Regions from separate parts of the Homo sapiens genome. Here all the other regions are linked to region 4. Evidence: fine-mapped expression QTL. A gene starts in region 4. Each other region holds a variant in brackets. All regions are shown on one strand. Distances are between the middles of the regions. Region 1 overlaps IL4R (interleukin 4 receptor). Region 2 overlaps IL4R (interleukin 4 receptor). Region 3 overlaps NSMCE1-DT (NSMCE1 divergent transcript). Region 4 holds the start of IL4R (interleukin 4 receptor).

Region 1 (8,000 bases), 45 kb after region 4:
ATTATCTCACATAAAATGAAGTCTTACAAATGGACCTACTGGGTTTTGTACAGCAGCCAAGTGATATCTCTTCCCTTCTGCTGTCTTCCCTTCTGCCATCCTTCACATGGTGGCATTGTATCCTTAGACTTGCCACCCATGCCCTCAGGTTGGCCGTTGCACACTGTCTTACATAAAGCAGGAAGGAAAGGAAAGGCTGCTACGAGAGAGTGTACCTTGTGCATCTCTTTTTTAATCAGGAAGCAAACATCTTTCTAGAAGCTTCCCTAGCAAAATTCCCCTTACATCTCATTGGCCAAGACTGTTACATGTTACATGGTTACTGTTATTACTTGCTCATTGCAAGGAAGACTGGGAACTCAAATGCCTGGAAAAAGGAACAGGATAATCGTGATTGGCTCAAGCCTTAGGGTGGGCATGGCTCCCTGACAAGGGAGAGAGGAAAAAGCTGTTGAGTGAAGAAGACTGCTTCAGTTTCCCCATCTGTATAATGGGAGGAGTAAGGGCTGTCGTAAAAACTCAATGAAAGAAGATTCTTCAACGTGGTAGGTGCAGTGGCAGCTGGCAGTACCCTGACCCTGCCACCGCACAGCCCTCTCAGCATTGCTCATCCTGCACTGTGGATATCAGTTGAGCCACGTGTCTCCTGCCCTGGGCTGTGAGCTCCATAGGCAGGGTCTCCATGGCTGTATCTCCAGAACCCAGCACAGAACCAGGTGCTTGGGAAAGTTTTGAATTGATTCTCATCTGCCATTGGCATGGGGAAGGGAACTAGCTTGTATGAAACAGATAACAATGTATGGGACCCTCATTCATTATTTCAGCAAATATTTGCTGAGTTCCTCCTACATGGCTAGCCCTGTGCTAGACACTGGGGAATCGGCGATGAACAAAGCAGATAGAAATCCCCACTCTTGTGGAGCTGACATTCTGGAGGGAGAGACAAAAAGCAAACATATAAAGAAAGAAAGAAATCACATGGATCTGGATGACAGTGAGTGCTGGGAAGAAAATAAAAGCAGAGGAAGGGGATGGAGCGATGGGCAGGGGGCAACGGTAGGGAGGGTGTCGGGGAAAACTTTTTGGAGAATGTGACGATGAAAGTGAACAAGGAGAAGTCAACCGTGTTGAGATGATGGCAGCTAATGATGTGGACAGGCCACTCTGTTCTGAGTGCATTATCTATTGATTCATCATGTCATCCTCGCAACAGCCCTGCACGATCAATTCTGTCATTAACCCCATAGTACAGATGAGGATGCGGAGGCACAGAGAAGATAAGGGACTTGTCCTGTGTCACACAGCAAGGAGCCATCCGGCTCCTAAGTTGGTGCATTTGACTTCTGTGCTTCCGGAAAGAAAGAGCAGCAAGTTTAAGATCTGGAGGTGGCACTGAGCTTTGGAGGAGCAGGGGGCAATGAGGTGGCCGGTGTGACGAGGACTCAATGTGCAAGAGGGAGAGTGGTGGGGAGATGAGGTGGAGGGGTGGTCGGCGGTCAGATCGTGGAGGGTCTCGGACGAGGGTCCTGACCCTGGGTCTCCAGTCCTGGGAAGTGGAGCCCAGGCTGTACCATGGCTGACCTCAGCTCATGGCTTCCCCTCCCACTTCCAGCCTACAGGGAGCCCTTCGAGCAGCACCTCCTGCTGGGCGTCAGCGTTTCCTGCATTGTCATCCTGGCCGTCTGCCTGTTGTGCTATGTCAGCATCACCAAGTGAGTCCTGGGCCCAGTGCTGCCGAGCAGTCCCTCTGGAGTGCAGGGTGGCAGGGACTTGCCCCTCTAGTCTGCCCCTTTGCAGTCCTCTCAGTCAATAATACGCATTTACTGAGCAGCTACTACACACCTTGAGAGTAGAGCTGAGAACATATCGACAAGGACCCCACTTTTTTCTTTTTTTTTTTTTTTTTTTTTTTTTGAGACGGAGTCTCACTCTGTCACCCAGGCTGGAGTATAGTGGCACAATCTTGCCTAACAGTAACCTCCGCCTCCCGGGTTCAAGCAATTCTTCTGCCTCAGCCTCCAGAGTAGCTGGGATTACAGGCGCATGCCACTATGCCCGGCTAATTTTTTGTATTTTTGGTAGAGATGGGGTTTCACCATGTTGGTCAGGCTGGTCTCGAACTCCTGACCTCATGATCTGCCTGCCTCAGCCTCCCAAAGTGCTGGGATTACAGGTGTGAGCCACTGCACCCAACCAGGACTCCACATTTCTAAAACCGGCATCCTACTGGGGAGACTGAAAATACATATCAATCACAAACAGGTGGTTTTCCATAGTGACCCACTCTCTGAATGCACTAGACCAGGGTGCAGGCCAGAGATCTTCTGGGGTGCTTTTTGCAAGGGGGACCAGGATAAGGCTCTCCAAGGAGGGAAAATTTGAGGGGGGCCCTGACTGGGGAGAATGAGCTGGCCAGGGATAAGCAAGATGGAGTCATCCCACATCCCCTTACAACGCTGGGTGCCTGGGCAACTGGGGGCATCTGGGGGCATGTGGTAGGAGCCAGAGGAATTTGCGACGATTGCCCTGATGGAGTCAGGAGACCTGGGTTTGAATCCTGGCCTTGGAGCTTGGTAGCTGGCGGCCGACAAGTTGCTGAAACCCCTGAGCCTGGGGTTCCTGCTTTGCAGAGTGACAGTGATGGTGAGAACATATTTCATCAGCCAGAAGAGGCCAAATCACAGTAAAGGCTGAGGGAGGAGATGAGTGGCGAGTGGCTGGGAGGTGGTGGAAGGAGCCTCGTTTCCAGAGAGCTCTTGCCAGCCCTTGGAATCATGGTGTCTCAGAGCCTCAGTCCTCCCATCTCTGAAATGGGACTAGCAAGCTCAACCTCACTAAGTCAGGATTAGAGGTGGCTAAGGATTATTAACATGATTGATGAAAGTGCCCACTCTTGGCCCAGCACACACTAGGTAGGCAGGGAATGCAAATTCCCCTCCATATCTTGTCACTGATGCCTCCGAGCAACCTTGGACTGATCGCCTTGCTCTGAGCCTCAGTTTCCCCATCACCTGTACCTCTTCCCACTCCCCATCACTATATCCCAGCATGCCAGCCTCTTTGCTGTTCTTTGTCTTTGGTTTCTTGTTTTGTTCTGTTTTTTAGACAGGGTCTCACTCTGTTAGCCAGGCTGAAGTGCAGTGGCGCGGTTACGGCTCACTGCAGCCTCCAATTCCTGGGCTAAAGAGATCCTCCCATTTCAACTTCCAGAGCAGCTGGGACAACAGGCGCTTGCCACCACACCTGGCTAATTTTCTTATTTTAATTTAATTTAATTTTATTTTTTGGGACAGAGTGGAGTCTCAAAAACCAAGCTGGAGTGCAGTGGTGCGATCTCGACTCACTGCAATCTCTGCCTCCCGGGTTCAAGCGATTCTCCTGCCTTAGCCTCCCGACTAGCTGGGATTACAGGCGTGTGCCACGACACCCAGCTAATTTTTGTATTTTTAGTAGAGATGGGGTTTCACCATGTTGGCCAGGATGGTCTTGAACTCCTGACCTCAAGTGATCCACCCACCTCGTTCTCCCAAGGTGCTGGGTACAGGCATGAGCCACTGTGCCTGGCCAATTTTCTTACATTTTGTAGAGACTGGCTGTCACTTATGTAGCCCAGGCTGATCTTGAACTTCTACCCCTTTATCTTTATTCATGGCACTTATTACCATGAATGAATGACCTCATATAAGCATTTCTTTCGTTTTTTTTTTTTTTTCTTTGAGATGGAGTCTCATGTTGTCCCCCAGGCTGGAGTGCAGTGGCGCGATCTCAGCTCACTGCAACCTCCGCCTTCCGGGTTCAAGCGATTCTCCTGCCTCAGCCTCCTGAGTAGCTGGGATTGCAGGCGCCTGCCACCATGCCTGGCTAAGTTTTGCATTTTTAGTAGAGACGGTGTTTCACCATATTGGCCAGGCTGGTCTCGAACTTCTGACCTCAGGTGATACACCTGCCTTGGCCTCCCAAAGTGCTGGGATTACAGGCGTGAGCCACCATGCCTGGCCTCATATAAGCATTTCTGTCTCCATTTATCATCCATCTTTCCCTCTTGAAGGTCAGTTTCACCAAGGCAGGCATCTTTGTCTCGTTCACTGTTGTGGCCTCAGGGCCAGGCACAGTGAGTCAAACATAGAAGGTGCTCAATAAATATGTGTTTATTTATTGAAACCATGGGCAGAGGCTAATTCAGAAGCGGTCTGAGGACCTTACCTCCCAGTGATGATGCACCATGGCCCCAGGCAGGCCAGGAAGAGAGAAGGGTTGTGTTTCTCCGTAGGTCCCCCAGCTTCCCAGGCCATCCCAGGCCATTCCCTGGTCATTTGCCCTCAGCTGCTCTGAAAAAGGGATTGTTGAGGGGAACCTAGAATCCTCTCTCTGCAGTTTGAGTCTTTCCTAATCCCCTGGGGTCTCATTCCCACTGAGGACATAGGTGGCCTCCTCAGGAACTCTGTGCTGGGTAACAGAATGCGGGAGTGTGAACCTGGCTCTGCCACCTACCAGCTGTCACTCCACCTCCTTGGGCCTCACTCTCCTCATCTGTAGAATAGGGTTAGCAATAGAATCCATGTCACCAGGTTAGAATGATGAGTCAGTGGTTTGACCTCCAGAAACTAATCAGCCTGATCTCTGATGCCAAATAAGTATTGGTGATAACGACCACTTTTATGGGAGGAGCGTTCACCTGTCAATAATTCAGAGATCAACACCTTTTCCTTTTGTTTTTCAGGATTAAGAAAGAATGGTGGGATCAGATTCCCAACCCAGCCCGCAGCCGCCTCGTGGCTATAATAATCCAGGATGCTCAGGTAGGAGTAGGCGTGGATGAGGACATGTGGGACTGTGTACATGAAGAAGTGTGGTTCAGAACACCTGGGCTGTTAAGGACCTTCACTGGCTTCTGGAATGGCAAATAGACAGTCAGGAGGGTTGCAGGGGAGACAGAG[A/G]CAGAAGCCGAATGAGGTCATTAGCAGACCAGAGGCTTTCCCGCCCTTCCCCTTGGCAATCCCAGCCTGGGGTGGGCTTCTCTGGGGTTGGTTTCCTGTTTTTTTCCCTCCCCTTGGGAGAATGACCCTTGGGTCATCATCACTGTGTCATTCCCTGGGGAGGTGCCAGTACCAGGGCTAGAGGCCAGAAGGAGTGGAGGAAGGAGAGGGTGACAGGCTTTCTGTGTCTTCTTCTTAAGCATAGGAAACTGCCCCCGAAGCACTAGCAAATCCCTTCCGGGTTCTCATTGGCCTGAAATGTATCCCACCCCTAAGCCAGGGGTGGAGTCAGCTTCCCCAAGGCGATGGTCCTGTGGGTGAGTGGGTGGGGTTTGCCTGAGCAAGATGAGAGTTCTCTAGGTAGGAGAAAGGGGGATTATAGGTCCTGTCTAGAAGAGAAGGTCTGAGGGTCCTTGCTTTTCCAGGGACTCTGGAATCTAGTGGTGTTGGCTTTGAATCCTGACTCTGCCACTCACTGGCAGTGTGGACTTGAGCAAGTTGCTTAATTCTCTGAGCCTCAGTTTCCTCTTGTGGGTTATAACAGTGTTTACCTGGTAGGACAGATATTGGAATTTATTGAGACAATACATATAAAGTGCATATTCCAGCCTCTTGCAAATACCAAGTGCCATTTATGTATCAGTTAGTGTTTGCTGTGTAACAAACGACCCCGAAATGTAGAGGGTTACAACAACTTTATTTAGCTTATGCTTCTGCAGGCTGGCATTTGGGGCTGGGCTCAGCAGTGAGGGTGGCGGGGGAGGCTGGGCTGGGCTGGGCTGGGCAGATCTGAATTGAGCTGACCCGTCCCCGTAGCCTCCCTCCGTGTCTGACAGTTGGCTTTTTTTTTTTTTTTCTTTTTCTGAGACGGAGTTTTGCTCTTATTGCCCAGGAGTGCAATGGCGTGATCTTGGCTCACTGCAACCTCTGCTTCCTGGGTTCAAGCAATTTTCTTGCCTCAGCCTCCCAAGTAGCTGGGATTACAGGCATGTGCCACCACGCCAGGCTAATTTTGTATTTTTAATAGAGATGGGGTTTCTTCATGTCGGTCAGGCTGGTCTGGAACTCCTAATATCAGGTGATCCACCCACTTCAGCCTCCCAAAGTGCTGGGATTACAGGCGTGAGCCACTGCACCCAGCCTAGTTGGCTGACTTTTACCTGGGACAGTGCAGGTGCCTGAGCCATGTGCCTCTCACTCTCCAGCAGGCCGGCCCAGGCTTGTTTACAGAGTGGCTCAGTTTTCAAGGGTGGGAAGTCCCAAGGCTTCTTGAGGCCTAGGCGCAGCACTGGCATGATATCACTTCCATCACATTCTATGGGCCCAAGCAAGTCCCAGGGCCAGTGTAGATTCAAGGGATGGGAGGAGATTCAGAGCACTCCTCTGTGGCCACTTTTGCCATCGACCACAGTCCCTGTAAATATTAGGACAATGTAATTAATTCCCAGGAATCTGAAGCTCAGAAAGCGTAAGTGACCTGTTGGACTTCTGATCTGTGTGATGTCGAGGCTTGTACCCCTTCCTGAGCATTGCCGTACTCCAGGCCGGGCTGCAAGGCCACTCTGCTCTTTCATTGGCTGTCTCTGTATTTTAGGGGTCACAGTGGGAGAAGCGGTCCCGAGGCCAGGAACCAGCCAAGTGCCCGTATGTATCTGAACTTAGGTCACAGCCTGCATGCATTGGGAAGGTGATAGAATTGGAGAGGCAAGCCCCTAGCTCCATGTCTGCCTTCTCTTCCCTGCATTCGGTAATTGCCCTGTGACATTAGCCTTCAAGGGACGGCAGGAGGAGGGGTGTTCTGGAAACGTGGACTGCTGGCCAAGCCCCCTGAGTTTCACTGGTGTGTCAGGTACATGGTGATACCCCTTGGGAGTGCTGTTATAGTTAACAACCAGAGCAGCCGTGCCTGTTGTTAAAATCTTGACCTAATTGTATACTTGTCGGCAAATAGCCACTATCCTGAACACTCCCCTCCTTTTTTTTAATATACAGGATCTCACTCTGTGGCCCAGGCTGGTGTGCAGTGGTGCGATCATAGCTCACTGCACCTTCAAACTCCTGAGCTCAAGTGATCCTCCCATCTTAGCCTCCCGAGTAGCTGATACTACAGATGTGCATTACCACGCCTGGCTATTTTAAAAGGTTTTTGCCTGTAATTCCAGCTACTCAGGAGGCTGAGGCATGAGAATCACTTGAACCCGGGAGGCAGAGGTTGCAGTGAGCGCAGATTGTGCCACTGCACTCCAGCCTGGGCGACAGAGTGAGACTCTTGTCTCAAAAAAAATAATACCAAAAAAAGTTTTTGTAAAGACAAGCTCTCGCTGTGTTGCCCCGCCACTGTGGCCTCCTTAGCTTCTTCCCTGGGGCCTGCTGGACCTTTCCATACTCCAGAAACTAAAGGGGGTCCAGGACCCTGCTTCAACCCTAGGATCCCGCATCTTTTTTTTTTTTTTTTTTTTTTGGACGCAGGGTCTTGCTGTGTCCCTCAGGCTGGAGTGCAGTGATTCACTGCAGCCTCAAACTCGTGGGCTCAAGTGATTCTCTAGCCTCAGCCTTCTAAGTAGCTGGGACTACAGTCATACACCAACATGCCCAGCTAATTTTCCTTTTTTTTAATTCTTGTAGAGATGTTTGAGACGGCTTGGGCTCTGTTGCCCAGGCTGTTCTCAAACTCCTGAGCTCAAGCGATCCTCCCTCCTCAGCCTCCTAAAGTGCTGGGATTACAGGCGTGAGCCACCGCACCCGGCTTCCATATCCTTTCTAATTGGTCATGGCTTGGGATAATGGTGTTGCTTTTAATTATCATCATCCATAAAGACTTTTTCTTACTCAACAGATCTGAGCTTGTATTTGGTGCCCAGGACATGTGCTGGGTTCCCGAAATCCCAAAGACACAGACCCTACCCTCAGGGATTTCTCATTCTAGCAACATAGACTGATCAATTACTGATTATAACGTTAGAAGGCATGTCTGAAGTAGACAGCCATCAGGACATGGTGATTTCAGGCTGGGCTTTGAAGAAT
Region 2 (8,000 bases), 28 kb after region 4:
GCCTGGGAGCTGCTTTTTTGAATAAGATCCCAGGAGAGAGACCCAAGCGGGAAGTGAAGGATGGGCACTTGAAATGTTGCAGGGAATATAACCCAGCGCGTGCTGTTTTCTTTTTTTCTTTTTCTTTTTTTTTTTTTTCTCTTTTTGCAACAGGGTCTCACTGTGTCGCCCAGCCTAGAGTGCAGTGGTGCCATCTCGGCTCACCACAACCTCCACCTCCTAGGCTCAAGCGATTTTCCTGCCTCAGCCTCCTGAGTAGCTGGGACTACAGGCACGCGCCACTACCGCCCGGCTAATTTTTTTTTGTATTTTTGGTAGAGACAGGTTTCACCATGTTGGCCAGGCTGGTTGTGAACTCCTAAAGTGCTGGGATTACAGATGTGAGCCACCACGCCCGGCCCCAGTACACACTTTTTGGAGGGTATTTGACGTTATGTACCAGGAGTGCTGGGGAAAAGTACACACTTGACTCCGTGAGATTCTGCTTCTTAGCATTTTTTTCTTTTCCTTTTTTTTTTTTTTTGAGACAGAGTCTCACTCTGTCACCCAGGCTGGAGTGCAATGGCATGGTCTCGGCTCGCTGCAACCTCCGCCTCCTGGGTTCAAGCAATTCTCCCACCTCGGCCTCCCGTGTAGCTGGGACTACAGGTGTGCGCCACCACACTTGGCTAATTTTTGTATTTTTAGTAGAGACAGGGTTTCACTATGTTGGCCAGGCTGGTCTCAAACTCCTGACCTCGTGATCCGCCCACCTCAGCCTCCCAAACTTTCTGTTTTCTTTTCTTTTCTTTTTTTTTTATGACAGGGTCTTGCTGGAGTGCAGTGGTACGGTCTTGGCTTACTGCAGCCTTGACATCCCAGGCTCAAACGATCTTCCCACCTCAACCTCCCAAGTAGCTAGGATTACAGGCATGCACCACCGTGCCTGGCTGATTTTGTTTAATTTTTGTAGAGATAAGGTCTCACTCTGTTGCCCAGGCTGGTCTTGAACTCCTGGGCTCAAGCCATCCTCCCTCCTTAGCCTCCCAAAGTGCTGGGATTACAGGTGTGAGCCACCACACCTGGCTTCTGAACATTTTTTTCTTAATGATAATAGCTGGTGCTATGGGCTGAATGTGTTCCCCCAAATTCATATGTTGAAACTTCATCCCATTGTAGTCATATTAAGAGATGGGGCCTTTGGAGAAGTGATTAAGTCATGAGGGCTCTGTGGTTGGTCATGAATGGGGTTAGTGCCCTCATGAACGGGCTGAAGGAAGTGTGTTTGCCCCTTCTGTCATATGAAGACACAGCAGCATGGCATCGTCCGTGAGGAATGGGCTCTCACCAGATCTGGATCTCCTAGTGTCGTGATCTTGGACTTCCCAGTCTCCAGAACTATGCATTAGAAAATTTATTTATTTATTATTTATTTATTTTGAGATGGAGTCTTGCTCTTGTCGCCCAGGCTGGAGTACAATGACGCGATCTCGACTCACTGCAACCTCTGCCTACCCCAGTTCAAGCGATTCTCCTGCCTCAGCCTCCAGAGTAGCTGGAATTACAGGTGCCCGCCACCACACTCGGCTAGTTTTTGTATTTTTAGTACAGACGGGGTTTCTCCATGTTGGCCAGGCTGATCTCGAACTCCTGACCTCAGGTGATCCACCCACCTTGGCTCCCCAAAGTGCTGGAAATACAGGTGTGAGCTACTGTGTCTGGCCTGAATAATAAAATTTAAAACAATTTTTCAAAAATTCACCATGAGGTCTCACTATATTCCCTAGGCTGGTCTCAAACCCCTGGACTCCAAGTGATCCACCCCACCTTCCCGAGTAGCTGGGACTAGAGATGCACACCATTGCACCCAATAGAGCAATACGTTTCTGTTCTTTGTAAATTACCTGCTCTAAGGTATTTTTGTTATAGCAGCCTATATGGACTAAGCTGACTTGTAACGTTACTTGAGACTTTAAAGTGTTCCGGTCACTGTTGGAGGGCTCTGTCTGTGTTAGCTCATTTAATCCCCACAACACCTCAATCAGATGGGGCTATTCTTAGTCCCACTTTATAGATAAGGAAACTGAGGCATGGAAGCACAGCTTGCTCAAGGTTCACATCTAGTCAGTGACAGAGCAGGTATTTAAACCTCAGGAAATAATCAGAGAAACATGTGTAGAGGGTTGTCCAAGGAAGGCCACATCCAGAAGCATCTCCCAGGACAGTTGTTGTGTAGCTCACCCTCTGGACTTTGTGGGTCTGGGTGTTGTTTCATGATTATAGAGAGAGCTCTGTGAACGTGGAGGACCTGTTGTCGGCAGAGACACAAATGGCCAGGGCATGGCTGGGCAGCCGCAGTGGCTCAGGCCTGTAATCCCAGCACTTCGAGAAGACCAGAGGGGCAGATCATGAGGTCAGAAGTTCAAGACCAGCCTGGCCAACATGGTGAAACCCCGTCTCTACTAAAAATACAAAAATTAGCCAGGTGTGGTGGTGGGCACCTGTAATCCCAGCTACTCGGGAGGCTGAGGCAGAAGAATCGCTTGAACCCGGGAGGTGGAGGTTGCAGTGAGCTGAGATTGCACCACTGCACTCCAGCCTTGGAGACAGAGCGAGACTCTGTCTCGGAAAAACAAACAAACAAGCAAACAAACAAACAAATAAATGGCCAGGGCAGGGGAGGGTTGCATATTGAATAAGATGAGCTCTGCTGGAAGCACAGGTCAGCACTAACCTGCTTCCTCTCTCTCTGCAGGTGCCTTGGCATCTCCCAATGGGGTGGCTTTGCTCTGGGCTCCTGTTCCCTGTGAGCTGCCTGGTCCTGCTGCAGGTGGCAAGCTCTGGTAAGTCACCACTTCTCAATCATTCATTTGTTGGCTATTAATGGCGTGCCAGGGTCCTGCAGTATGTCACCTGGCCTTATGGAGATTACACTGCAGTGGGAGGGGACAGCCAATGACAAGTGGCCCTGATTATCAGTAAATTCTAAAGATTGTTAGAAAGTGATGGGAGCCGGGTGCAGTGGCTCACACCTGTAATCCCAGCACTTCAGGAGGCCGAGGCAGGAGGATCGCTTGAGCCCAGGAGTTCGAGGTCAGCTTGGGCAACATAGGGAGACCTTGTCTCTACAAATAATAAAATATTAGCCAGGTGTGGCAGTGCACGCCTGTAGCCCCAGCTACTCAGGAGGCCGAGGTGGGAGGATCCCTTGAACTCAGGAGGTCAAGGCTGCAGTGAACTGTGATCGCGCCACTCCACTCCAGCCTGCGTGAGAAAGTGAGACCCTGTCAAAAAAAAAGAGAAGGTGATGGGGAAAGAACACAGAACAGCATAAGAGGGGGTTGGGGAAGCTGGGTGGAGTGGGGGGGATTGCAGTTGAAAGTAGGGAAGTCAGGGAAGGCCTCATTGAGCTGACTTGGAGGAAGCGGGAACCGTGCAGATGTCTGGGGAAGGCTCATTCTTGGCAGAGAGGCCCTGCACTGAGCCTGGCGGGAGGGTTGAGCACAGGAGGGAATGTGGTGGAGGAGAGTGAGCAGCAGGAGGGAGCAGTGAAGGTCAGCAAGGTGACAGAGTGGCTGAATCAAAAAAGACCTTGCAGTGTTTGAGCAGAGGATCCATATCATCCATTATGTTCCAAAGGACTCTTCAGGATGCCGTGTGGAGAAAGGAAGAGGGTGGAAGCCAGGAGGTCTGGAGGGAGGTCTGGAGTGGAGGAGATGAGAGGCTCCGGATCCCTCTGGGAGGTAGATTTGAGGACAGATTGGAATTGAGGTGAAAGACAGAGAAAGAGAAGTGGCCAGGATGACTCCAAGATTTCTGACCTAAACTACTGGGAAGGACGCGGTTGTCATTTCTGAAATGCAGAAGGATGCCAGAAGAGAAGGTACTTTGGGGAGGGGCGGGAATCAGGAGTTAGTTTTGGACATGAGATAAGCTTGGAATATTTATTTGCTATCTAAGACAGCTCCTTAACATGGTAAGCCCTTATGCAAGTTGTTGTCAGCTGAGATGGGCGTGGCACTGAGCATGGGAGCATGGAGGCGCCTGAGTGGTCTCATGCTCAGGTGGTTTAGCAAACTCAGTGTACATCCTGCCAATTCCAGTCCTGCCATGGCCACTGACAAGCTAGGAGGGCGCTGAAAGGAGAAGGACCCCGATGTCTCCTCCAGCCCATCCATCTCCTCTCTCCCATTGGCCAAACCCAACCGGAAACTAAAGGCCAAGGGTACCCGGTGATGAAGACTGTGGTATCAGCCTCCTGAGCACAGAGAGGGCAGAAAGGGGTGGAGACAAAGAGGGGCGCAGATAGTGGGCAAATGGGGAAGTGGCACTTCCCCTAGCTCGAGGGCAGAGGCTTGGTGTGATGGAATGGCACTCCTTAAACTGCTACATATTTTCCCTTTAATTTGGCCAAGAACAAGTTGTCAAGTTTGTGTGAGATAAAGGTGCACTTGGTTCGTTCTTGTCTAATGGCCCCC[G/A]CACCCATGGGTATTTCTTCAGCTTCCACAGTCATCCCGACACTAGCTGGGAAGCTCCAGCAGCCCTGGTCCTGGCCCCAGCTCTGTGGGCGCTGGCCCTCAACTTTGCCTGCACTGTGCTTTTGTGCTATTCCCCTTGGTCCTGTTTGGGTGCAAGTCCCCCTCACGCATTGAGTTCCTGGGCCGCTCAGGCTGCTCCTGTGTCTCCCCAGGGAACATGAAGGTCTTGCAGGAGCCCACCTGCGTCTCCGACTACATGAGCATCTCTACTTGCGAGTGGAAGATGAATGGTCCCACCAATTGCAGCACCGAGCTCCGCCTGTTGTACCAGCTGGTTTTTCTGCTCTCCGAGTAAGCCTGCGCTGGAGCTGGAGGTTTGGGGAGGTTGTGCCCAAAGGGTTTGCCCCAAGAGTGAGCTGGGTCCAGGTGGTGCGCTGGAGTGCAGGATGCTGAGTATGGTTTGCTGCTGTTTATATGGTGTTAGAGGGGAGGTCCCATCTCCAGGGACATGTTATGTAAGATACAGTGGAGCGCATGGTGGGAGTGTTGGTCCACGTGGCACATGGATACGGCTGGAATACTGGACTAGACCAGCAGTTCTCACACTTTTTGGTCTCAGGACCCTTTTTCACACTTAAAAATGAGTGAGGACCCAAAGGGCTTTGGTGTAGGTAACACATCATTCTATGTTTACCTAATTAGAACTTGCAATGAAGAAATGGTGTAATTTTTAAAAAATTAAAACAATTAAAAATTTTTTTTCTTACTGAAATGGAGGTCTCACTGTGTTGCCCAGGCTGCTCTCAAACTCCTGGGCTCCAGTGATCCTCCTGCCTCCGCCTCCCAAAGTGCTGGGATTACAAGCGTGAGCCGCTGTATCCGGCCCAAAATGGAGAAATTTTAAGTCCCAACAACATGCAAGCCCGCATTCAACAAATCTTCAGATCAATTACATGATCACAGGTCATGTAGCCTCTAGAAAATTCCACTGTACGCCAGTGAGAGAGAGTGAAAAGGCAAATAACGTCCCTGTATTATGATGAAAAGAGTTTTACCTGGTGGGCCCAGACCACACTTTGAGAACCACTGGACTAGACCCTTGATTGAGGAGTACGGTGTTGAGAGTGGAGTCCTCTGTGATGGTGGATGGACCAGGACACATGGCATAGGAGTCAGGTGGTTCCCTGGGCTACTCCATGGTGCACAGGATGCTTCGTTACACTGGTGCCCAGGACATAATCACGTACACAAGACACACAGTTACGGGGCAGACTGGGGATATACGGCACACCAGCATGCAGCGTTCACCAGTAAAGGTGGTATTCCATGATTATTCTAAGGTAGATGGGCTGTGCTTTGTTTCCATTGGCTTAGTCCAGGGATTGGCAAACTATGGCCCGTGAGCCAAATCCGGCCCACTGCTTGTTTTTGTAAATAAAGTTTTATTGGAACACACTGGCTGCTGTAGTTGTAACAGAAACTGCATGGCCCTCCTTTATGTTTTTTGTTTGTTTGTTTGTTTGTTTGTTTTCTTTGAGACAGAGTTTCGCTCTTGTTGCCCAGGCTGGAGTGCAGTGGCACAATCTCGGCTCACTGCAACCTCTGCCTCCCGGGTTCAAGCGATTCTCCTGTCTCAGCCTCCCGAGTAGTTGGGATTAATGGTGCCTGCCACCACACCCGGCTAATTTTTCGTATTTTTAGTAGAGACCGGTTTTCATCATGTTGGCCAAGCTGGTCTCGAACTCCTGAACTCAGGTGATCCACCCGCCTCAGCGTCCCAAAGTGCTGGGATTACAGGCATGAGCCACTGAGCCCGGCCTCCTCCTTTATCTTAATTGAAATAATTCAGAAATGGAAAGTCAAATACTGCATGTTCTCACTTATAAGTAAGAGTTAAATAATGTGTACACATGGGCATTATTCCATGTACCATGGAATAACAGACATTGAAGACTTGGGAGGGTGGGAGAGGGGTGAAGGAAGAGAAGTTACTTAATGGGCATAGTGTACACCATTTGGGTGACGGACCCACCAGAACCCCAGACTTCACCACTAGGCAGCATATCCAGTGAGAACAGATCTGAGGCTTGCCATCAAAATTGCACTTGTAAGGCCGGGCACTGTGGTGGCTCGCGGCTGTAATCCCAGCCCTTTGGGAGGCCGAGGTGGGCAGATCACTTGAGGTCAGGAGTTCGAGACCGGCCTGGCCAACATGGTGAAGCTCCATCTCTACTAAAAATACAACAATTAACTGGGTGTAGTGGCGCACACCTGTAATCCCAGCTACTAGGGAGGCTGAGGCGGGAGAATTGCTTGAGCCCAGGAGGTGGAGGTTGCAGTGAGCCGAGATCACATCACTGTACTCTAGCCTGGGTGACAGTGAGACTTTGTCTCAGGAAAAAAAAACAAAAACAAAAAACAAAAAACTCGTACCCCCTAAATTTATACAAATAACCAAAAAAAAAAAAAAAAAAGGAAATTGTGTGGCCTTTGAAGTCCAAAATATTAACTATCTGGCCTGTTACAGAAAAAGTTTGCAGACCCCTGGCCTAGCCCGTGAGATGTGGGTTGGCTGTTAAGGTGGAACATTGGAATTATCTTACGATGGCCAAACTGTGCGATGCAGAGCTTATGTTGTTCTAAATTAATTAGTGCCACCGGTTCTTCCCTTTCATGGGCTTTCAGGAACAAGCTAAGTCCCAGGACCAGGGCCGGCAGCTAGGCAGGTGTGAGGAGCATCCTTGGTGCATGTGGTAAGAGGCTGTGGCCAGCAAGAGAGGCAACCCTAGTCGGCTGCCCCAGCACACCCTGGCCGCTCCCAAGCCCCCAGATCTGTCCTCACATCCGTGATCGGGAAGCTGGAAGAGTCTGATGCGGTTCCTGGAGGCATGTCCCGGACACAGCTGTGGGGCCCAGCCAGCCTACAGGTGACCAGCCTAACCCAGCCCCTGTGTCTGCAGAGCCCACACGTGTATCCCTGAGAACAACGGAGGCGCGGGGTGCGTGTGCCACCTGCTCATGGATGACGTGGTCAGTGCGGATAACTATACACTGGACCTGTGGGCTGGGCAGCAGCTGCTGTGGAAGGGCTCCTTCAAGCCCAGCGAGCATGGTGAGCAGGGCGGAGTGCGGCAGGGGTGGCTGGGTGTGTTCCCACAGCTGCCTGGGCTGAGGGTGGGGTGGGCAGGGGAGGAGGTGGGGTCATAGCAACAGCAGGAGGAAGCCGCCTGTATTTTCCCAAATCTGATGGGATTCCTGCCCCTGCCTGGGCCTCAGTCCTCCCACCTTTGAAACGGAGCTGGTCGCAGTAGACCACCAAGCCCCCTTCAGCCCAGCTGTTTCCACCCCTGAACTTAAGTGCCCAGGAAGGCGTATTGAGATGAGGTGTGCTTGCTGGAAGGCATGCCTGCTGCTGATTGAAAACCGAACTGGGAACATTCCTTCCATTCTGTGTCCACTGGTCAGCTGCTGCGGCTTTGGATGGTCTTGACCGTGGAAGGCTGACCTTCTTCTGGTACCCGGAGTCCCTGCAGGAATCCCCCT
Region 3 (8,209 bases), 24 kb before region 4:
GTGAGAACTAGTCACAAGATCTTCCCTAAATGCCAGAACACTGGGAAATGAAAGGGAACAATGGAATCATTGGCGAGCATTACTGTCTCTGCTCCAGGGTGGCTCGTAGACTCAAATGAAAATGCTGGAGCCTCAGATTTGGGACTGAATGTGGACCAGAGAACTTGGCAGACCTTGCCAGCAGCAGCTTATGGAGGTCTGGTCAGGCTGTCATCCATTTTCAGCTATCTGTCACCCTCTCAGGATTTGCACTGGAGAAAGAGTAAGAGCAGAGAGAGAGAGAGAGAGACAGAGAGAGAGAGAGAGAGAGAGAGAAACAACTGATTGGCCCAGGCGGGTTCTACGTCCCACTTGAAACACAAGTTAATGGACAACTTGATTGACAGAGTTGCACTAAAAGGTGGTGGGGGGAGTTCATCCAAACAAAACTGGGGTGCTGTTACAACAAGAGAGGGAGGGTAGGTGCATAGTGAGCAAAAGTACACACTTGCTGCAGAGCTGGTCCAAATACCCACTCTTCAGAGTTGACATCATCTGGAAGGTTTATAGAAGTGGGGGCTTTCCAGATTAGCTTTAGAGGATGGGATAACTGATGCAGAGGAAAGGTAATGCAGGCTGAGAGGCCCGTGTAAGCAAAGTGAAGCTGCAGAAGAGTGCAATCATTTGCAAGAAAGAGAAGGCTGGCTGGGTGCAGCGGCTCACACCTGTAGTCCCAGCACTGTGGAAGGCCAAGGCGGGAGGATCCCTTGAGCCCAGGAGTTTGAGACCAGCCTGTGCAACACAGGGAGATCCTGTATCTACAAAAAATTTAAAAATTAGCCAGGCATGGTGGTGCATGCCTATAGTCCTAGCTACTCAGGAGGCTGACGTGGGAGGATTACCTGAGCCTTGGGAGGCTGTGGCTGCAGTGTGTCATGATTTTGCCACCACACTCCAGCCTGGGCAACAGAGTGAAACCCTGTCTCAAAAAAAAAAAAAAAAATGAGAAGGCTATTGAGATTGAACAGAGGATATGATTTGCAGTTACATTTTCACCCCAACTTACCCAGCTTATCTTTCCTTCCCGTGGTGTCAACTCAGGGGACGCAAATGGGTGGAGGCTGGTTGGAATGGCTCATACTACATCATGAGATTGGAGCCTGGTCCTCCATGTTGGCTGAGAGTCTCAGTTCTCCTCCACGTGGCCTCTCCTTGTGGTCAGCTTACATTTCCTCAAAACGTGGCAGTCTCAGGGCAGTTGGGTTTCTTGTGTGCTGGCTCAGGGCTCCGGAGAGGATAACATCAGAATATCTTGTTCTTCCTCAGGCTTGGGCCCAGACTAGCACAGCATCATTATCTTTTTATTCTGTGAGTTAACATATTTCAGAGGACCAGTGCAGATTCAGAGTGGAGAGGGCTGCATAAGAACACGAACACTGGGAGGTGGCTTCATTTGGGGCCATCTTTGGAGACCAACTATGATGCATGATGTAACTGACCTGAATTCCCAAGCCCCTACCCCCAGCTCCAGCATAAGGTAGGTAAGAAGTGACTGGCAACATAAGTGGGTCATGTTGGAGGAAAGGTAAGTCTGGAGCTAGGCCTTACAGGTGTTCAGTGCCACAGATGAAAATGATGGTGCCAGGAAAGAGGTAGGGCAGGAGGTCTTTCTCTTCATGGGCCTCTTCCCAGATTTCCCCTGTGGATCTTGTTGGCAAAAACTGAATCACATCAGCACCTCTTACTGCAAGGAAGCCTGGGCAAGTCAGAATCCGTGAAAGGGAAGTGGGATTGTTATTTCTGGCCTAAGTCAACCCTGATTCATTCTCCAGGCATGTGTGGGCCATTGCAGCCTGAATTAATCAGGAGGGAAGAAGAAGTGCGACGATAACTGGCCAGTGATACACAGTGGGAGGTCAGTACAAACCTACCCCAAAGGCCGAGGAAGCTGAGAGGTTGAAGAAAGAGGCTGACAAACCCAGTTTTTCAGAGACAAATTTTTGTTGTTGTTGTCATTGTTGTTTTTAGAGACAGGGGCTTACTCTGTCACCCAGGCTAGAGTGAAGTGATGTGATCAGAACTCACTACAGTTTTAACCTCCTGGGCTCAAGCAGTCCTCCCACTTCAGCCTCCCGAGTAGCTGGGACTACAAGTCACACACCACACCTGGCTAATTTTTTTTTAATGTTTTGTAGAAACGGCCTCACTATGTTGTCCATGTTGGCCTCAAAGCCCTGGGTTCAAGTGATCCTCCAACCATAGTCCCCCAAAGTGTTGGGATTATAGGCTGGAGCCGTGGCTTCCTAGAAAGAAGCATTTAACTGGGACTTGTGAAGAGAAGCCACGTATCCAATGGTTGAGAAATAGTAGTCCCCTGTGCTGCTACCTCCCAGCCCCAAGACCAGGGCTTATATACCATAGGGAAATTGCCTAAGGGCAGGATTTATGATTAGCATGTGTTTACAATAACATCAAGGTTGTTTTGACCTAAGGGCAGGCTTTGCAGTAAGTAGAAATCTTAGAGGCATTCCTGCAACTGTGGTGAATCTTAAGTCAACATGGTGGATCTGCATCCAAAATGGAGTTGCTTTCGCCTCACAGTAGGCGACATACAGAGGATGTCACAAGCAACAAAAAACAGGGAAAGCAGCTTGGAGGATATAGCTTTACTTCAGGTGAGAGGAGGGTGGGGCTGGACCAGGGCAGAAGCAGCAAGGAGTGGGAAATAAGCCAGATGTGAAAATGAACACAGAAGTGGAGGGTACTGCGTGGAATACTATGCAGCCATAAAAAAGAATGAGATCATGTCCTTTGAAGCAACATGGTTGCAGCTGGAGACTGTTATCCTCAGTGAATTAACACAGGGACAGAAAACCAAATACTGCATGTTCTCGCTTATAAGTGGGAGCTAAACATTGAACATGCATGGTCATTAACATGGGAACGATAGACACGAGGGACTTCTAGAGGGAGGATGGTAGGAGGGGGCAAGAGTTGATACGCTTCCTATTGGGTACTATGCTCAGTACCTGGGTGATGGGGTCATTTGTACCCCAAACCTCAGCGACGCACCATTTACCCATGTGACAAGCCTGAACAGGTACCCCCAAAACCTAAAAGCTGGGAAATAAAAAAAGAAGCAGAGTGCACAGCCCATGGCTGCTGTGACTGTCTTTCACAA[G/A]CGAGAATGGGAAAGAGAGACAGAGAGGGAAGTCAACAATGACAACATCATTTCCAGCTTGCTTAATTGGATGGTGACACCGTCCAAGCACAGAAGTTAGCTCGCGAGAGACAATGACTTTGCCCTAGGCATTCTGAGGGCAAGAGGTGTGAGAGAACATGCTCAAGGTGTGGATCATGAAACACGAGGGCATGGGCCAGGTCGGGGGGCTCACGCCTGGAATCCCAGCACTTTGGGAGGCCGAAGCAGATGGATCACATGAGGTCAGGAGTTCGAGACTAGCCTGGCCAACATGGCAAAACCCCATCTCTACTAAAAATACAAAAATTAGCTGGGCGTTGTGGCAGGTGCCTGTAATCCCAGCTACTTGGGAGGCTGAGGCAGAAGAATCGCTTGAAACCTGGAGGTGGAGGTTTCAGTGATCCGAGGTCGCACAACTGCACTCCAGCCTAGGTGACAGAGTGAGACCACCCTGTCTCATAGATAAATAAATAAATAAATAAATAAATAAATAAATAAATAAAATACTAGGGCATGGGAGAAAGGACAGGGCTAAATGTGGAGACTTTAAATGACCAACGCAGAACTGTAGTCAATGCCATGCTATGGGCTGGGTGCAGTGGCTCATGGCTGTAATCCCAGCACATTGGGAGGCCAAGGCGGGAGGATTGCTTGAGCCCAGGAGGTCAAGAATAACCTGGGCAACATAGGGAGACCACGTCTCTACAAAACAAAATAAAACCAAAACAAAATCATCACACTATGGAATGATGTGTCTGCTTGTACCAGGTCTGGAAGAATGCACACCCAATGCTCACAGAGGTTCCATCTGGGAAATCGGATTGGACAGGGCCAGAATAGATCCGGGGAAACATTCACTGAATATATATACTTATGTATTGTGGAAGCTTTGATGGTGGTCATGTACCCAAGAAGGGAAAAAGTAAGTTTATAAATGAGCAGAACCAGAAGAATGCTAGAGGAAAAAGGAGAGGATGTGAATGATTACATTTAGAAGGCAGGATGAGAAGTGAGAGGAGGTGATTAGAGAGGTCAGGAGAAACCAGGAGGGTAGGTATGGAATCTTGGAAATTAACAGAAGAGAGCATTTCATGAAGAATGAACAGCTGCAGAGAGAAAAAGATTGCATGAGAACTGGGAAAAGAAAGGCTTTGTGTTTGGTGACACTGTCATAGCTGACCCCAGAAAGCATGGTTTGAGTAGAGTGGCCCAAAAGAGAAGGATACTGGAAGGGGAGGATCAGTACCAGAGATGAACTACAGTCGTATATAAAGAAATGTGATGACATGAGGAAAGAGAGCACTCATTGGGGTCGAGAAATGATACTTCTTGCCTCTGGGAGAGTGATCATATCCTTAAAATTTTTTTTTTTTTTTTTTTTTTTTTTTGAGATGGGGTCTCACTCTGGCACCCAGGCAGGAGTGCAATGGTGCCATCTCAGCTCACTACAACATCCGCCTCCTGGGTTCAAGTGATTTTCATGCCTCAGCCTCCTGAGTAGTTGGGACTAGGCACCCGCCACCAATGCCTGGATAATTTTTGTACTTTTAGTAGAGACGGGGTTTCACCATGTTGGCCAGGCTAGTCTCGAACTCCTGACCTCAAATAATCTGCCTGCCTCAGCCTCCCAAAGTGTTGAGATTACAGGCGTGAGTCATTGCACTCGGCCTTAAAATGTATATTGATACCACTCCTCACTTCTAGCTTGTTTTTGACCTGCAAACCAAGAAGTAAGCATTACATCAACCTGTACAAGGTGCACATCAGTGATTCCTGCAACATCCTGCATCATGATGGGACCGGTAGTTGATGTGGTAAAAATATGTTGTGCATTAGTCTTTCCCACGAAATTTTTTCTAGCCACAAAATTAACCAGAAATAAGAGAAGCATAGCCCCATCCCCCCTTTTCTCAGCAACACAGAAAGGCAGTGTCTCCAACACAAGAGAATGAATAACCTGCCAAAAACTAAGTTAGAAATACTGATGAAACCAGGTTAGATGATACGCCGTAGTTTCTCTGCCATCCCACAGTGGATTGAAACCATGTTACAATTTGATGATGGGATGTCCCAGAGCAAATGAACAAGGTTGTGCCAGCAGAAATGAAGCCTGAGGATTTGGGGTCATTCACTTGTGAATGATTCCTCTCTCCCTGTCTTCTTTCTCTTCCTTTTTGCTGTATTTTTTTTCATGTACTCACTCTCTTCCACAGACAGACTGCGGAACTGCCCATGAGGCCAAGCACCTATTAGTAGACCAAGAAGCATCACCCATCCATGGCCTAAGTCGGCAGCCAGCTATTGTTCTCATCTGAGTCTGGGAGTTCAGGATTTCCATCCTGACCCGGCTACTTTCTTTCAACAGTTACCCACTGTAAATTTCCGAATACTTTCAGCTACTAATCCCAGTGTACCCAATTAAAAATGGCTTTCCTAATAAAGGCATTTCAGATCGAATTTAGCAAAGTGTTCCAAGGTAGGAGTTTCCAGGGCTGGGGCAGAAACTCAATGATCTTATAAAGGCCCCTGCTCTGACATCTTCAGCATGTTGGCTTTTATCCTTGGCTCTGTCCTCATGGTTGCAAGATGGCTGTCACAGCTCCAAGTATCTCCTGCCTCCAAGACAATGTCCAAAAATCTCTTTCTCTCTCTCTCTTTTTATCAGAGAGGAAAATCTTTCCCAGAAGCCTCCTTGCACACCTTCATTCAAGCTCCATTGCCCAAGATTAGGTCATCCACCCCCCCTAGCTGTAAGGAGCCTGGGGAGGTGAGTACCTTGCATTTTCAGTCTCTATAGTGGAAAAAAGGAGTTGGAATGACTACTTGGTAGGCAACCAAACATCCACTACAAGTAACAGTGATGGAAATAAAAAGTAATAATGACAGCTAACATGAATTATGCTATTAATACATGTTAGACATTGTTCTAAAGGGTTAACATGCATTGGCTTAGTTCATCCCAAAAATACTAACGAGATCCGTATTATTGTAGTCCTCATTTTATAGGCAAGAAAATGGGCTCAGAGAGACTTTAAAAATTTGCCTCCACCCCTGCCCCTCCCAGCAAAAAAGAAAAAACTTGCCCCCAGCCCGCAGAGCCCCAGTTAGAAAGCCCACACTTGGCCTTTTGGAGACCAAGGTCGGTGAGACATTCCTTGGCATCAAAAGATTCACAGTTCAGAGGAAGGCCCAGGCCAGAAAATAAATGACTGAAATATCACGAGTGAGGTAAGTGCTGATCTAGGAGAAATAGGGTGTTAGCAAGAAAGTGTCTGGCCGCAGCATCCCTTGGCCCCTCTCCTAGGACTGCCAGGCCAATCTTGTGTTTCCAGTGAAACCTCCCAGGGAGGAAGCGAACAGAAGAAGTTGCCTGAGGTGCATGAGCCAAAGCTGGGGCCTCAGTTGTGGAAGCATCTCCCAAACTGGGATGATGGGGGTGGGGGCATTTTGGAGGGTGTGACAATGCTGTGTTGCCTCAAAGTGCCCAGAGAGGCACCAGGACCCTAGCAGGAGTAACTGCATGACGCTATAAGGGAGGTTGCACCCCCCCAGCCACTGCCAGGTGCCTGTGCCCAACCTGGGAAGGAGTAGCGAGGACACCCACCTTCCAGGACCAGATGGAATTGGAAAATACTGCACTGTGTTGCCTGCTGCAGATAGGAGACAGAGGGCCCTCTCTAAGTGTCTGTGCTGTGTAGGACACCCCATCCCCTATCCTCTGTTTCCCCCTTTGGTTCTCTGTAGGCACAGAGAGAATCCAGACAACCACTGAGAGCAATTTATTGTACTCTGGGGCTTGAGGCCTTGGCACCAGACTTAATTGTATTTGAAACAACAAATTCCTATGGCGTGTCGTACATCCAGAGAGAAAGCCAGTCTGAGCTTGGGGCTGCATGTGCAGATCAGTGGGAATGCAGAAAGAGATAACACTGTGTCTATCATAGGAGAAGGAATCCAAGAAGGCTCCTGTACACTTTCATGCCCAGATGAGGGGCAGTGTCAGCAGGGTACTGAAGGATAAATAGGAGTTCGCCAGGTGGACAAAAAAGGAAAAAGTTCTACACAAGGCAAAGAAGTATGAAAGACATTCTGGAGCTGTGAGCGTTCTGATATTGAGCACACAGGCCCATAGATAAGGCAGGTAGAGAAGACCCAGAGGCTTTCTCTTGTGCTCCAACACTTTGGGTAGGGAAGACTAGCTCTTAAAAAGACTGAAATGGGTCTGAATGAGAGTTGTCCAAACTCGCACTTTTATTTTATTTATTTATTTTTTAGATGGAGTCTCTTTCTGTCACCCAAGTTGGAATGCAGTGGCATGATCTCGGCTCACTGCAACCTCTGCCTTCCGGGCTCAAGTGATTCTCCTGCCTCAGCCTCCTGAGTAGCTGGGACTACAGGCGCACATCACCACGCCTGGCTAATTTTGTATTTTTAGTAGAATCAGGGTTTTACCATGTTGGCCAGGCTGGTCTCGAATTCCTGACCTCAAGTGATCCTCCTGCCCTGGCCTCCCAAAGTGCTGGGATTACGGTCGTGAGCCACCGTGCAGGGCCAAACTTGCACTTTTAAGTACCAGGACATTTTCCTATTCATGAACCCCTTTATAAGTTGAAATTACCTGTAACTCCAATACGTAAATCGGATGTAATAGGGATACCTTTTTCCCTGACAACAATTGTCTTGGATGCAGGAAACGCCTCCCGATTTTACTAATACATGAAGTTAAGCCCAGCGCTGTGTTTCCAGAGACAAGGCTGGTGAGAAAGTTAATCTCTGTCATTATGGGGAACCCTCCCTACCAGAGAGCTGAGTGGAAATCCAGGGTCTGGTCTAATCCTAACTGTTGAGGGGGTCCCTGAGACTTTCATCCGTACTGGTGACTTCCAGAAGGTTGACTGTCCTCTGCTGTCTCCCCAAGCTGACTTCTTGTTGCAGAACTTGGGATTCTTGTGTGTGTGTGTGTATGTGTGTGTGACGGAATCTTGCTCTATTGCCCAGGCTGGAGTGCAGTGGTGTGATCATATTAAA
Region 4 (8,209 bases):
AATTTCCTAATTTGCAAACATTGACATATGCATCTTAAGTCACTAGGAAATTGCAAACAATGATGAGATACCACTATACACTTACTAGAGTGGCTAAAATCCTCAAACTGACAATATCAAAAGCTGACAAGAATACAGAGCAATGGAAACTCTCACTTGTTGATAGAAAGGCAAAATGTTACAGCTAGCTTCGAAGACACTGGCAGTTTATTGCCAAACTTTCTTACTTTTACCATATGATCCAGCAATTGTGCTCCTTGGTATTTACTCAATTGTGTTGCAAGCTTATGTCCACCCAAAAACTTGCACATGAGTGTTGATAGCAGCTTTATTCATAATTGCCAAAAATTGGAAGCAACAAAGATGTCTTTCAATAGGTAGAATGGATAAACTGTGGTACATCCATACAATAGGGCACTATTCAGCCACAAAAGAAATGAGGTGTGAAGCCTGGAAAAGACATTGAGGAACCTGAAAAGCATATTGCTAAGTAAAAGAAGTCAGTATTAAGAGACTACATACTTTCTGATTTCAATTACGTGACATTCTGAAAAAGGCAAAACTATGGAGACAGTAAAAAAATCAGTGGTTTCCAGAATCCAGGAAGAATAGGTAGAGAATTGGGGATTTTTAGGGAAGTAAAACTATTCTTTATTTTTTTCTTTTTTTTTTTAGAGACAGGGTCTCATTCTGTTGCCCAGGCTGGAGTGCAGTGGCATGATCATAGTTCACTGCAGCCTCGAACTCCTGGGCTCAAGGGATCCTCCTGCCTCAGCCTCTGAGTAGCTGGGACTACAGTGCACCACCATGCCTGGCCTGTTTTTTGTTGTTGTTGTTTGTTTGTGTTTTTTGGTAGAGACCGGGTCTTGCTATGTTGCCCAGGCTGGGAAACTATTCTTTTTGTTGCTACATGTGTGGATCCATGGCATTATACATTGTTAAGACCCAGAACTTGGCTGGGTGCATTGGCTCATGCCTGTAATCCCAACACTTTGGGAGGCCGAGGCTGGTGGATCACTTGAGGTCAGGAGTTCAAAACCAGCTTGGCCAGTATGGGGAAACTCCGTCTCTACTAAAAATACAAAAATTAGCCAGGCGTGCACCTGTAGTCCCAGCTACTTGGAAGGCTGAGGAGTGAGAATCGCTTGAACCTGGGAGGCACAGGTTGCAGTGAGTTGAGATCACGCCACTGTACCCCAGCCTGGGTGACAGAACAAGACTCTGTCTCAAAGAAAAAAAAAAGACTCAGAACTGTGCTGCAGAGGTTAGGCACAGTGGCTCATGCTTGTAATCCCAGCACTTTAGGAGGCTGAGATGGAAGGATAACTTCAGCTTAGGAGTCTGAGACCAGCTTGGGCAATGTAGCAAGACTGTCTCTAAAAGTATAAAAAAAAAAAAGCCTAGTGTGGTGGCATGTTCTTGTAGCCCAAGCTACTCAGAAGGCAGAAGCAGGAGGATCCCCTGAGTCCAGGAGTTCCAGGCTGCTCCAGCCTGGGCAACAGAGTGAGACCTTGTTTCCAAACAAGCAAACAAACACAAAACAAAACAAAACAAAACAAAACCCCGAGAAACAGTGAAACAATGTATGCTATGGACTTTAGTTTATAATAATGTATCAGCATTATAAGGAAGGCACTACACACTAATGCAAGATGTTGATAAAAGAGGAAATTTTGCATGGGGGAGAGGGATGTATGGGAACTCTCAGTACTATCGGCTCAATTTTTCCATAATCTACAATGGTTCTAAAAAATAAACTCTATTAGTTTTAAAGACCGAAAGGCTTGGAAACAAGTAAGCGTGTTAGGATATAATGAGGATTGAGCTTATACTGAGGCAAGACTTGGGAACCCCTAGATGGGGGAACAGAGGTTTTACTATCTTGGTGCCTTTGGACCTGCTCCCAGGACTGACGGAGCAGTCACAGATAAAGTCTGGGCATCTTGGGCAGGAACTTGAACAGTGGGACTGTATGCAAGAAGACATTTATTATCTCTCTTGCACCCGAGAACAATGCCCTGTTTTCTTTAACTTTGTAATTTGACATAATTTCAGACTGGCGGGAAAGTTGGGAGAAGAGTACAAAGAATTCCCGAAGTCTCTTCCCCCAGATTTCCTGAATGTCTTAGCCTCTGACCACAGCTGTGCTTTCTTTGCCTGTCTTCTCAATGCCACGTTCATCTCCATTTCACAACCAAGCAACAGACCAAGGCAACAGGCTTCGACTTTGCTTCTTTCTCATTTTCATCCTGATAAGAACAGCAATTGACATTTTGAATGCCTAATCCACGCCAGGCACTATTCTAGGCACTGCGATACGTACCTTGCCATTTCACCATTTCATAGCCCTATGAGGTGGGTCTATTATTATCCCCATTTTACAGATGGGGAAACTGAAGCACAGGGAGGATGATCTACTTTGCCCAAAGTCACATAGTCAATACGTAGCAGAGTTGGTATGCCAATGCCGGCAGTCTAGAGGCAAGCGAGGAAACCGACGAAGGATGACTTGACTGGGAAAACAGGATGGGAGCCCAGTTTGGGAGTCCAGGAGGGGATATAGCCCAAGCCATACATTCCCAAAGGACTTCAAAGGTAGACTTTTGCTGTCGTCTCCCGATGACATGGGGCACAAACTCAGAAACACAGACAGGACAAAGGCAGCTTGCAGGGCTGAACTGCCTGGGATGAAGCATCAACCGTGTGGGTGTGCGGATGTGTGAGTAATGAGTGTGAGGGAGTATGAGTGTGGACGGGAGTGGAAGTCACACCTAATCCAGAGGATTCCTATTCCTCCTGAAACCCAAGCTTCCAGGAAAGCCCTTCCTGTGGCCTTCTCTCCCTAGTCCTCTTAGCGTCTGCCTGGGCTGCCCCCAGTACGGGGTTTATTACACTCAATTGCTTACATCTGTTCACTTCAATTGCTTACGTCTGCTCACTTGTCAGTGCCCCAACCAGGTCCTCAGGGCTAGGAAGCAGGGGCTGGATCTATTTCTTGCTCTCCCTAGCCCCCAGCTCACGACTTGGCATATGGAGGCATCCACAAACAGATGCCGAAGGATGGGAGTTTTTCCACACTCCCACGCCACCTCCAGGTATTTGCTCATGCTGTCCCTTCCACCTGCATGTTTTTCTGCATTGATTCAGGCACTGGTCAGAGGTCACCTCCTCCAGGAAGCCATCCCTGACCCCAGGGAACTGACTTATCTTTACTGTCACTTCCGGGGGTGGGTTGGTGGCTGTCTTGCTCACTTGGTTGTAAGGTCTCAGAGGGCAGGGATTGTGTCTGTTTCATGTCTTCAGGTCTGCGTCATCAGCGCTTGTCACAAGGTTAGACACACAGTAGGACCAAGACAGACCAAGTACATGAAAGAATGATTGACATATGGGCCAGGCGTGGTGGCTCACACCTGTAATCCCAGCACTTCGGGAGGCAGAGGCAGGCAGATCACCTGAGGTCAGGAGTTTGATACCAGCCTGGCCAACATAGTGAAACCTCATGTCTACTAAAAATACAAAAATGAGCCGGACGTGGTGGTGCACGCTTGTAATTCCAGCTACTCAGGAGGCTGAGGCAGGAGAATTGCTTGAACTCAGGAAGTGGAGGTTGCAGTGAGCTGAGATCACCCACTGCACTCCAGCCTAGGCAATGGAATGAGACCCCATCTTCAAAAAAAAAAAAAGAATGATTGACGTGCAGTGGCCCCTGCCCTGGGAAGCCAACCCTCACCCTCCACCACAGCACTTGATCCCATTGGGCAGTCCTTGGCTTCCACCCTCAAACTGAGAGCTCCTTGAGGGCAGCAGGGGGTCAAATTACTCTCTGGGTTCTCAGCACTGCCCAGTGTGAGTCCAAATATCTCCCACCTCCCCTGTCTCCGCTCTTTCCTCACTCAGGGCTCCACAGCCATGCCGGCCTTCAGCAATTCCTCCTGCAGGCTGAGCTGGTTCCCACAGGGCCTTTGCACTAGCTCTTCCCTCTCCCTACACAAGTCTTCCCCCATAGGCTCTTCAGAGTCTCAGCTCAAATGGCCTCTACTCAAAAAGCCTCTTCCAGACCACCTGCCCCACTGGTCTAAGAGGTCCCTACTTTCTTCTTGGGCCCTCCTGACCTGAAATACTTTGTTGAGTGTTTTCCCCCCAGTCATCTGGCTGCATCCGGGTTCTTATGGTGTCCAGACGTTAATGGTCTATGGGGCCTGTGTTCGAATCCCAGCTCCACCCCTGCTCCTGCTTACCTGCAGAGTGATTCTGAGTTTCTTTCTTTTCTTTTTTAAAATTTTATAAATGTCAATTTTTGTAGATAGGGGTCTCGCTAACAGGGTTGCCCAGGCTGGTCTCGAACTATGGGGTTCAAGTGATCCTCCCGCCTCAGCTTCCCAAAGTGCTGGGATTACAGGCATGAGCCACTTTGCCCAACCCATTTTGAATTTCTTAAGGACTCTGTGCCTCAGTTTCCTGATTTGTAAAACCGGTGATAGTATCACTCCCTTATAGGGTAGTTGCCAGGATTGAACGAGTTAACATTTGCAGTGCCCGACAGATTGTACTAGTTACTGATTGAAGGGCTGTTTTACTATCCAAATGTGGCTGGAGTAGGAGTTGGGTAAACATTTATTGAAGAATGTGCAACCACTCTCACTTGGAAGCCGGGCTGTTAGGAAGGGGAGGAGGATTCCAGTCGCCCAGCCCTCCCCCACCAAACGCAACTGCCCCGGCGCAAAAGAGGCCGCGGAGGCCAGGCAGGAGCAGGTCCTGGAGGCCTGGTCGGCGTGGGCGTTTTATTCCGAGACCAAGGGGATCCACTGCAGAGTTCTCCGCTGGGCGTGACCTCGGGCTACGGCGTGGGAGGAAGCGCGCGGCAAGACACCCAGCGAGGTGCTGGGGTCGCCCCCAGGAGAGGACGGCGGCTCGGACTGTCCGGCGGCGGCGGCGGGGACAGCGACAGGGGCGCGAGGTGGCCGGGACCCGGGCCGGGCGCGCCGGGCGGGGCGGCGCATGCAAATCTGCCGGGCGCCGGGGCGGGGAGCAGGAAGCCGGGGCGGGCTGGGTCTCCGCGCCCAGGAAAGCCCCGCGCGGCGCGGGCCAGGGAAGGGCCACCCAGGGGTCCCCCACTTCCCGCTTGGGCGCCCGGACGGCGAATGGAGCAGGGGCGCGCAGGTAGGATCCGGGGCCCGCGCGCGGATCGGGTTGCGAAGGTATCGCCCGGGCACGCCGGCTGAGGGCGTTCGGGAAGGGCTCGGCCGCCGGCGGGGACCACGGGGACCACCCCGACTCCGAGCGGGGCCCGAGCCCGCGACTCTCGGTGCGCGCGGAGCAGCGCCCGGTTCCGTCCTTGCCGCCGAACGGCAGCGGAGGCGCGAGGCCCGGGGTACGTGGACACCCAGCGCTCCCCAAAGCCGGTGCTGGCAGTGAGACCTCCGCCGGGACGGCCTGCGGGGGTGGGGGGCTTGGGGTTAGGCTGTCGGAGGCCACGCAGCCCCTCTTCTCCGGGCAGTGGCGCCCAGCCCTGCGCTCAGGAAGTCAGTGAGGACTTCGGAGAGAGAAAGGGTGGGGAAAGTTCTGAGAACTGTAAATTTGAGTAGTAGGTCAGTGAATCGGGGCGGTCTCCGCCTCCGAATATCAGATGGACCCAATAATCGCGATCATTGACTGGGACTTGTTTTACTGAAAGGATGCCAAGTGAAACCTCCCACTAACTTCTCTGTGGCCGGTGCTGTGCGTCATGGACATTGTACAGATGAGGTCACCAAGACCCCAGCCGCTTTAGTAACTTGCCCTAAGGTGCCGCCCACTTGGGAGTCCGTGGGGCAGCAGGACTAGAGCCCAGGCAATCCCACGCCAGAGCCAGCTGCTCTCCATCTCTCAATCACGTTTGAGGAGCCCCCACAATAACCAGAATCTCCGGGAGATTTGCTTAAAATGCAGATTCCCAGGTCCTTGCCCTGAGATTCAGATTCAGTAAACCCAGGAATCTGATCTTTATTTTATTTTTAAAAATTTATTTTATAAAGATGGTGTCTCACTATGTTGTCCAGGCTGGCCTCAAGTGATCCTCCCACCTCGGCCTCCCAAAATGCTGGGATGACAGGTGTGAGCCACTGAGCCCTGATTTTTTTTTTAAACAAAATCTGGATTTCTTAGACTTAAGCAAGATAGGGGACCACTAGTTTGTCTGCTTCTGGGGTTCAAGGAATGCCCCCAGGCCAGCGCTAACCCTGCTCCAGTTCTAGTCTCTCCCCTTCCCCAGCCCTCTGGGAGGCATGACCCACTGCACTTCCCTGCCCCCAGTAGCCTATGAGGAGCCCAAGGCATTTGCTGGGACCTCAGTGCCTTTATCAAAATCCCAAAGTCCAATGGGGAAACAGGCTCAGGTGTAGGTTTGGCCAGGGTGTCCTGCACATTAGGGCATTCCAGGGTCCTGCAGGGGTTTCTTAGAACTCGGCTAGCCCAGCCCATGAATGGGAGGTGACCTGCTAAGCCACTCATTCACTCACTAGCACTCATTCAGCTCCTGCGAGGCCCTGGGTGGTGTTCTGGGCACTGGTGCTTGCCTCAAGGAGCACCCCCTCTGCAGGAAGACAGACGTGAGGGCTGGGAGGGTGCGGATGCACCAGCGGCTGCAGGACCACAAGCCAGAGGGGATCAGCTCTTCAAAGGTCACTGGGCCAGGCTTCCCAGCACCCAGGGACCCTGAGCTAGCCTTGTGAGTAGAGCAGGGGAGTCTGGCAGGTAGAGGATGGGAGGTAAAGGGAGGCACAGAGTGGGCGGAGGCTGGGAAGTGTGAAAGGGCACTGTGTACAGAACCTAGGGAGTAAGCAGAAGCCAGAGATGGATGGAAAGTTGGGCTGGGCTGCATTGTGGAAAGCCTTGAATGCCATGCCAAGGAACTTGGGCCAGTGTATTCACCTTGGCTTGAGTTGTAAAAGCAACAATGCAGATTCCTGGGCCCCACCCTGGGCCTCTGGATCTGAATCTGGAGGGAGACGCTGGGGAGGCAGCAGGGAGGAAAACCTGCAGTCACTCACCCCATTTACAACACATGCAGTTACCGGCAGGTCCGAGATAACCTAAGGGTTTCCAAATGCTAGGAAGTGACTCAATGACTGATATGTTTAATACAATACAATCCCGGTTGCAAAATGCCCAGGGCAAGGGTGGGGGTGTTCAGTTTTCTAATGCTCCCAGTTCAAAAAGGAGCTGAAATGAATTGTCAAAGAAGTGACAAGCTGGGCGCAGTGACTCACACCTGTAATCCCAGCACTTTGGGAGGCTGAGAGAGGATCGCTTGAACCCAGGAGTTTGAGACCAGCCTGGGCAACATAGTGAGATCCTGTTCCTACAAAAAAAATTTAAAAACTTAGCCAGGCGTGGTAGCAGGTGCCTCTAGCCCCAGCTATTTGGGAGGCTGAGGTGGGAGGATGGCTTGAGCCCAGGTGGTCAAGGCTGCAGTGAACTATGATTGTGCCACTGCACTGTAGCCTGGGTGACAGAGCGAGACTCTGTCTCAAAATAAACAAATACATAAATACATGAGAAGAGAGAACCTTTTCTACCTCCCCCATCTCCCTGCCCTCTTCCACCCACCCCATCTGGGACGATGGAGGAGAGCGTTTGGGATTAGATGCCCCACCTCTCGACTGCCCTCACTGGTACCTGGGAGTGAGGCCAGGACAGAAGCCGCCTAAGTACTGTTCTTCCTCACATTTGTAAAAGTGAACTTTCTTGAGGGTTGATGACATGTTTTATAAGCTACTTCACACAATGTCCAACACCCAGTGGGTCCACAATCAATGTATATGTCTGTTGTTACCTGTCAAAACGTATAGCTGGGGAGTGACAGTATGGACTTGAGCCAGATCACCCAGTGCAAATGCTGGCTTTGCTGCTTACTGTGTAACTGACTTCCCAGAGCCTCAGTTTCTGCATTTATGAGATTATAGTGACTATGCCATTGTAGTGATGACTAAATGAGTTAATATATGTCAAGCATACAAAACAGTACCTGGTATGTAGTACAAACTATGTATTTGTTAAATGAATACCTTTTTTTTTTTTTTAGAGCCATGGTCTCTCTCTATTTCCCAGGCTGGAGCACAGTGGCACAATCATAGCTCACTGTAGCATCCAATACCTGGGTTCAAGTAATCCTTCCACCTCAGCCTCCTGAGTAGCTGGGACTACAGGTGTGTGCCACCACGGCTGGCTA

Evidence for each region.
Region 1: its variant is fine-mapped to the expression of IL4R in whole blood (TOPMed, PIP above 0.99).
Region 2: its variant is fine-mapped to the expression of IL4R in whole blood (TOPMed, PIP above 0.99).
Region 3: its variant is fine-mapped to the expression of IL4R in whole blood (TOPMed, PIP above 0.99).

Annotation. Positions count from the first base shown.
Region 1 is chr16:27,354,196-27,362,195 of GRCh38, forward strand. IL4R (interleukin 4 receptor) reads left to right here. Exons shown (of 11, transcript NM_000418.4): 8 at 1,613-1,712; 9 at 4,721-4,799; 10 at 6,571-6,620. Among named protein-coding and RNA genes, the nearest start is that of IL21R, 44 kb to the right of the region's middle. The variant A/G (reference allele first, on the strand shown) is at 4,938.
Region 2 is chr16:27,337,452-27,345,451 of GRCh38, forward strand. It overlaps IL4R (interleukin 4 receptor), which reads left to right. Exons shown (of 11, transcript NM_000418.4): 3 at 2,735-2,822; 4 at 4,670-4,808; 5 at 7,418-7,569. The coding sequence starts at 2,753. Among named protein-coding and RNA genes, the nearest start is that of IL4R, 27 kb to the left of the region's middle. The variant G/A (reference allele first, on the strand shown) is at 4,458.
Region 3 is chr16:27,284,851-27,293,059 of GRCh38, forward strand. It overlaps NSMCE1-DT (NSMCE1 divergent transcript), which reads left to right. Exons shown (of 5, transcript NR_037184.1): 3 at 1,812-1,894; 4 at 3,950-4,103; 5 at 5,395-5,618. Among named protein-coding and RNA genes, the nearest start is that of NSMCE1, 20 kb to the left of the region's middle. The variant G/A (reference allele first, on the strand shown) is at 3,161.
Region 4 is chr16:27,308,861-27,317,069 of GRCh38, forward strand. It overlaps IL4R (interleukin 4 receptor), which reads left to right and starts at 5,114. Exons shown (of 11, transcript NM_000418.4): 1 at 5,114-5,160. RefSeq lists enhancers at 2,305-3,504, 4,327-5,057 and silencers at 4,835-5,134, 5,155-5,364, 5,805-5,854.